Linked DNA regions of Homo sapiens. The protein of the gene in region 1 purifies or fractionates together with the protein of each later gene. This does not show direct contact. Each region holds a gene or a part of one and is shown in the gene's direction. Other genes may lie near its edges.

Region 1 (3,821 bases):
CTCATTTGACTAACAACTTATTTGAAAGATTTCGGGGACTTTGGTATTGTGGGTACAGTCAGGTGTTCCCCACCTCAGGGTTCCCAGTGACTCATCAGGATGACTTTTTTCTTTTTGTTTTTTTGAGACAGGGTCTTGCTCTGTCACCCAGACTGGAATGCAGTGGCACAATCTTGACTCACTGCAACCTTTGCCTTCTGGGTTCAAGTGATCCTCCCAGCTCAACCTCCCAAGCAGCTGGGATTACAGGCACATGCTGCCACACCTGGCTAATTTTTGTATTTTTTGTAGAGACGGGGTTTGGGCTGGTCTCAAACTCCTGAGCTCATGCAATCCGGCCACCTTGGCCTCCCAAAGTGCTGGGATTACAGATGTGTGCCACCGGGCCTGGGTGACTTTTTTTGACAGGTTGTTGTGTATCCCTTCTATCTTGTCATCTAGCTGATGGGTGCTATGGTCTCCTCAAGTCCCACAGTCGTAGCTTCTGGCATCCTGGCCCTACAAACAAACATTTTCCCTCCCTTTTCTACCAGCATGTGTTCCTGTTCTTGCGCTTCCTCCGAGCCCCACTTTCCACTTCCCACAATCATGACTCCATTTTTGGGCAAAGTCTAGGAAGAAATGATAATGTGTGCATGGCTGAATAGGTTATATTGGACAGGACCATTTTGGGGGCACTTAATAAGGGGCTGGCAGTTTTTACCTAGACACCAACTTGTGGCCTGCTCCGATTCCCTGTTGTTGAAATAATTCACGGATGCAGTTCAAGAAGAAAGTCCTCTTTTACAGTCATTAACATATAGATTGGGTTCTTTGGAAGAGGAAACTTGGAAATCTATTACGTTCAAAGAAATCTTTTATTCTTCACACCTTTAAAGTCATTTTACCAGTTTATAATGCAAAGGCAGGTGATTGATACTTTTCCTAACAACTATATTTTAGAGAAGTAGACGCTCATCTTTCCCCCATATATTTAGAGTCATACTTGATGTGACTCCATTATTCTCAAAAAGGAACATGGTTATTTAGACAAGGAGTGGACCAGTGAGAAGCATGCTGGCTTTTTAAAGGATGCCCACAGTCACCTATTTAAACACATCTTTACAAAAATTCTGCCGCAGTTAATTCCTAAGAAACCACGACCATGTAGTACCAGTCTACGGTGAATACCTTTAAGTAATCTCCATGAAGACATTTATTCTCATTTCCTTTTGTGGTTAAATATTTATTACAGCTTTACGGATGGTATGCCTATGTATTCGAGTACATCCACAGTGATTTGGACACATGTACTCTCTTATGGGATGAAATGAAATAGATTGATTTAAGATGCCAGCATTTTAAATACAACTCAACCTCTGAAAATATTTTTTGTAGTTTCCTACAAAACTTCCCTGACTAACTCATTAAAATAAATACTGTGAGCCAGGCACTGTGGCTCAGGATTGTCATCCCAGCACTTTGGGAGGCTGAGGTGGGTGGATCACTTGAGCCCAGGAGTTTCAGGTCAGCTTGGACAACATGGCAAAACTCAATCTCTACAAAAATACAAAAATTAGCCAGGCATGGTGGCAGGTGCCTGTAATCCCAGCTACCTGGGAGGCTGAGGTGGGAGGATTGCCTGAGCCTGGGAGATCGAGGCTGTGGTGAGCAAAGATTGTACCACTGCACTTCAGCCTGGGTGACAGAGCAAGACCCTGTCTTAAATAAATAAATAAGTCTCTTTGTTGAATTGATTCATAGTATTCTATTTTTTGTTCTCTGAAATGATAGGTTTATTACAGAGGTCAGCTGGGAAGAGCTACCACTTTAAGTGTAACTCCTGAAATGGAAAGAGTGAAGAAGAATCAAGAAAATATTAGCTCGGCAAGTGGTTTTCTTCATTTTAGACTATCACAAAGGATGTGTCTTTTATTATTTACTTGCGGTCCTCCTTTGCTTGTGAAAATAAAACTTATTTTCAAGAAACATTTGTGATGTGTCCAATAAGTACATGTGTTATTTCAGATGACTTCCAAAAGCTGCCACTGCAAACATTTACATTATTTTGCAACTCTTTGTTATTTCCAGATGTGACCAACAGTTACATTCAAAGCTTAGGTTAAAATTATATTCATTTAAACAACGATTCATGATATGTTAGCCGTGTCTTTGAAGGTGGTAAAGCCTTTGATGTGTGCGTTAAATAATTGTCATTTTCCTGAAATATTTCATTGAACATGGATTGTTAAATGCTGTCTGCAAAACAAAATAGGAGATGGATCATTACCCCCACTAAAGACTTACAGAAAAGAATCCTTAAATACAGTTAACGTAGAATTCAGTTGCTCACCAAAGTCCAGTGGTGTACATGAGTATCTTATCTGAATATTGTGCTTCCTCTTAGTGAATATCAGGGCTTCAATTCTGAATTGTACATAATGCCCTCAGGTCCACAGTAAGTGGTATCCATATCTTACACCTAATCAGTTTCATAAATGGCGGTGTTCTGATGGGCAGTTGTGAAGAACACAGGCCCTTTTCTTAGCATACCCTGAATAGCTGTTTGCCTGAGAATCAGCATTTAGGCTTTGCAATTTACAGCTTCCTAGTGACATTTCTGTCCAGAGATGCTGTGTGTATTTAACATAAATTACCTTTAAGTTGTGGCTGCTTAGAAGAACAACTAAATTTGTTCCTCATTGTTTCTTATTCCCTAAGCAGAGAAAAAAATAAAAAGAAATAGAGTAGCTTGTATGCATTTTTTAACACTCTTATGGTAGAAAATTGGGAAATTTAGAAACAAAATAACTTTGGGTTCTATTTAATAGTTTTGGATTTTCTCTGTTTAACTTAAATATGATAACCAGTTGTGTGTGTGTGTGTGTGTGTGTATGTGTGTATGTGTGTGTTTGAGACACAGTCTCTGTTGCCCGGGCTGGAATGCAATAGCACAATCATAGCTCATTGCAGCTTTGAACTCCTGGGCTCAAGCAGCTGTCTTGTCTTAACCTCTCAAGTAGCTGGGACTACAGGCACACGCCCAACTAATTTTTTTTTTTTTTTAATTTTTACCTGTAGAGATGGGGGGTTTCACTGTGCTGCCCAGCCTAGTCTCAAATCCCAGGCCTCAAGTCATCCTCCCACCTTAGCTTTCCAAAGTGCTGTGATTACAGATACGAGTCCTCGGGCTTGCGCAGGTTTACAGACTAGATAGATAGTTACTATTGGTCATTCACACATTTGTTTAGAGTTGATAGATTTAGGTCATTTAGCAGTAGGCGGTGGAGGAGATCTTTGATTGTAAAATTTTAGGTTGCTATTCTAGAACAAAATTTAATTCACTGAAATAGTTACCTGGAAAATAATTTCAAGTATGTTGCATATGTTTCACTCATTTGTAAAGCTTAAAAATGTTACATCATGTGTTTTCTTATCATTGTCTTATGCCTACTATTTACTTTGCAGGTAAAATATACCCAGGACCATAAACAGATGAAAGGTAGACCAAGTCTGATTTTAGATACACCTGCTATGAGACATGTTAAAGAAGCACAAAATCATATTTCAATGGTAGGGTCCAACCAGATCATTCTTAAAACATGCTAAGGAATGGGCGGATCCAGTGCACGGATGGCATTACTTCACTATTAATCCGATAACTAACAAAGCATGGAAATGTGGTTGGCTTGTCTTTTGAGGGAGGGGCATTTCTAATCACACTGAAATGCAGTGGAAACATTTAGTCTAATAAAATGATTTTTCTCAGTGACTTTTTCTGGTGTGTCTTTATTTCTAACGTGACTACTGTAAACTCATAGTGTGAAAGATATTTGTGTAGA
Region 2 (3,821 bases), on another chromosome or scaffold:
GTCATCCCCGGGGAGAGGCTCTCAATGGGGAGTCCCATCTGCAGGCTGCGGGTCTGCGGTGCACGGCTGCTGCTTCCTGTCCAGCTCTGCATCCTGGGGGTGCGGATGAATTAGAGGTGAACGAGCCAGAGTGCTCTGCTTCAGGTTATTTTCTTTGTGAATTTAAGTTCACAATTTAAAAACTGGTATCTTAAAAAACCACTGTACTGCGTGGAAGTGTGAAAGGTGGGAAGTGAGGGTGTGCGTCGCTGCCCCTGCAGCCCAGACTCTGGACCTTGCATTCTGGTTCCTGTACACTGTTGCCGTGGTCTTGAGAGCCCTCAGGTCATCTAGCGTGGGCTGCCGCCTCCTCGTCAGCTTCCAGCTCGTGTCTGGTGCGGAGCAGAGGCTTCCTACTTCGTCGACGTTCCTGAATGAGGTCATCATCTGGTGTAGGCCTGAAAACAACCCGATTAGGTAGATTCCTATTCATAGCCCCATTCTTCTGATGACAGATTGAGTCCTGGCAAGGATTCAAGACGCCCGTGGGATCTGGTAGCAAAGAAACTGCAGAGATGGTTTTTTAAAAACGACTTTATTTAGATGATTTACCTACCATACCCCTCACCCATTTAAAGTGAACTATGCGGTGGCTTCAAGTATATTCATAGTTGTGCAACCATCACCATGATCAACCTTAGAATATGTTTATTGCCTCCAGAAGCAGCCCATCCCCGTTAGCATCTGCTCCCTGTTCCCCAGTCTCCCCAGTTCCTGGCAGCCACTCAGCTAGTATGCTTTCTGTCTCTCTGGATTCGCCTGTTCAGGACATTTCATATGAATGGAATTATGCAACGTGTGCTATTTAGTGATTAGTTATGTCACTCTGCATAATTTTATATTTAGAGTTACCTGTGTTGTAGCATGTATCAGTATTCCATTCCTTTTTATATCTAATATTTCACTGTATGCATACACCACCTTTGGTTTATCTGTTGATTAATTTATGGAAAATTGGTTTCCACTTTTTGTGTGGATGTGTTTTCACTCTCCTGGGTGTTAAGTGTTTCACATTTTGAGGCCCTGCCACTGTTTCCCATAGCGGCTGCACTATTTTCCATTCCCTCTAGCAGTGTGCGAGGGCTCTGATTCTCCACATCGTTCCCAGCACTTGTTACTGTTGTTGTCTACTTAGCAGCCACTCTAGTGGGCGTGGAGCGACCTCACTGTGGTTTGGTTTGCGTTTTCCTGGCAGCTGATGCTGTTGAGCATCTTTGCATGTGCTCATTGGCTGTTTGGGTATCTTTTTTTTTGTTTTTGTTTTGTTTTGTTTTTGAGACATATTCTCACTCTGTCACCCAGGCTGGAGTATAATGGCGTGATCTTGGCTCACTGCAATCTCCACCTCCTGGGTTTAAGTGATTCCTTTGCCTTGGCCTCCAAGTAGCTTGGACTACAGGCGCCCACCATCACACCCAGCTAATTTTTGTATTTTTAGTAGAGATGGGGTTTCACCATGTTGGCCAGGCTGGTCTCGAACTCCTGACCTTAGGTATCCGCCCGCCTCAGCCTCCCAAAGTGCTGGGGTTACAGGCGTGAGCTACCATGCCTGGCCTCTTTGGGTATCTTCTTTGGAGAAGTGTCTATTCATACCCTTTCCCCACTTTGAAAACTGTTTTTTGCCTTTTTTTTATTGACTTTTAGGAGTTCTTCATATACGTTCTAGACACAGGTTCCTTATCAGAGAGACGATTTGCCGATATCCTCTCATTCTGTAGGTTGTCTTTTCACTTCGATGGTTTTGTTTACAGCACAGTTTTTAATTTTGAAGTCCAATTTAGCTGTTTTTTCTTTTGTCCCTTGTGCTGTTGGTGTCTTATCTCAGAAGCTTCTGCCTAACCCAAGGTTTACTCCTACATGTTAAGAGCCTTATTGTTTTGGTTGTTACTTTAGCTCTGCGGTGCATGTCGAGCTGATGCTGGTGTGGTAGGAGGAGGCTCCAGCGTCAGTCTTTTGCTTGTGGGTGTCCAGCTGTTGCAGCACCATGTGCTGGAGAGACTCCTTTTTCCTCCCAACTTGTCATCCTCCCTGACAATCCGTTGACCCTAAATGTGAAGGCTTATTTCTGGACTGTTGTTTCTGTTTTGTTGATCTGTACAGCTGTCCTGCAACTGCCCGGTCTTGACTGCTGTGGCTGTGTAGGAAGCCTTGACGTCGAAAGCCCGAGTCCTCCAAATTCGCTCTTTTTAAGGTTGTTTTGGCTCTCCTGGGTCCCATGCATTCCAGTTTTGGATCAGCTTGCTGATTTGTGGAATAGGCAGCCGCAACTTTGGTAGGGATGATGTTGAAACTGAAGATCAGTTGGGGGAATGTCTAACAACATTAAGTCTTCTGGTTCCTGGGCTGGCTTTGAACCCACGTTGTCTGAATCTGGAGCGCAGGCTCTTGACCAATGCACCTGTCCTCACACTGTGCTCTTTGCACACTCGTTAACAGTGTGTCCTGGAGACTTTTTCATGGAAGGATATGTGGATACTCATTATTTTTAACAGCCACATCAGAATTTATGGATCTACTACAGTGTATTTAGTTCATTTACACTGTTTTCAGCTTTTTCTTCATGTTAACATCAGTGGTGTCCTGAATCTATGTGTTTTGTGCACTCTTTTGGGTGAAGTTCCATTGCTGAATCAGAGTAAGGACGTTTAAATTTTTGAGAGATGCCCCCAGATTTCTCCCTAGTGTACCAAGGTTTGCTTTCCCATGGGTGGGGACACCCTTCTGCGCTGGGTGCTCTGATGCTGCAAACCTTTCTAGGAGACCCATGTAACATTGCATTTTCCAGGGTTTGAATATTCACTTTTGAGTACTATTTGCAAATACATTAAAAGAAAACACAGAAACAGATGAAAATGTCAGATTGTTGCCAAATACTGCAACATGAAATCAGAAACTGATCTAAAATCTGAATTAGCAAAAGCCTGCCAGTTTTAACAGTAAAGCCAAACTCAGGGCAAGCAGACAAAGAATTTTTATTGTTAATAAAGGGAATAATAAACTTCCATGAAGTCTCAGGTACCTGCCTCCCTGGAAGGGGCTTCAGGACACACTGCTAATGCTCGGACCAGTGTCAGAGCCAAATACACACTTTCCTATGGCTGGAATGTGCGTCATAAACAGGCTGAAATGAGCACTTTGTTAGGCGAGCAGCTAATGCTTTGTCAGCTTTCAAATTTCATTTAATATACACGGCTTTAGTTTTCAATACTTTAAATTATTCTTAGCATGTATTTTTATGTCCAGAATTGGTGGGTTCTTGGTCTCACTGACTTCAAGAATGAAGCCGTGGACCCTCGCGGTGAGTGTTACAGCTCTTAAGGTGGCGCGTCTGGAGTCTGTTCCTTCTGATGTTCAGATGTGTTCGGAGTTTCTTCCTTCTGGTGGGTTCGTGGTCTCTGTCTCAGGAGTGAGGCTACAGACCTTCGCGGTGAGTGTTACAGCTCTTAAGGCAGCGCGTCTGGAGTTGTTCGTTCCTCCCGGTGGGCTCGTGGTCTCGCTGGCTTCAGGAGTGAAGCTGCAGATCTTCGCGGTGACTGTTACAGCTCATAAAAGCAGTGTGGACCCAAAGAGTGAGCAGTAGCAAGATTTATTGCAAAGAGCGAAAGAACAAAGTTTCCACAGCGTGGAAGGGGACCCGAGCGGGTTACCAATGCTGGCTCGGGCAGCCTGCTTTTATTCTCTTATCCGGCCCCGCCCACATCCTGCTGATTGGTAGAGCCGAGTGGCCTGTTTTGTCAGGGCACTGATTGGTGTGTTTACAATCCCTGAGCTAGACACAAAGG

The links.
Region 2: the proteins of NEBL (region 1) and NAXD purify together in Homo sapiens (affinity purification with mass spectrometry; one large-scale study listed by BioGRID and IntAct). This does not show direct contact.

The regions. Positions count from the first base shown.
Region 1 is NC_000010.11:20,813,670-20,817,490, reverse strand, and holds part of NEBL (nebulette), read left to right. Parts: intron 1-1,773; coding exon 1,774-1,866; intron 1,867-3,447; coding exon 3,448-3,552; intron 3,553-3,821. UniProt on the Homo sapiens protein: Binds to actin and plays an important role in the assembly of the Z-disk. May functionally link sarcomeric actin to the desmin intermediate filaments in the heart muscle sarcomeres.
Region 2 is NC_000013.11:110,628,734-110,632,554, forward strand, and holds part of NAXD (ATP-dependent (S)-NAD(P)H-hydrate dehydratase), read left to right. Parts: intron 1-3,821. UniProt on the Homo sapiens protein: Catalyzes the dehydration of the S-form of NAD(P)HX at the expense of ATP, which is converted to ADP.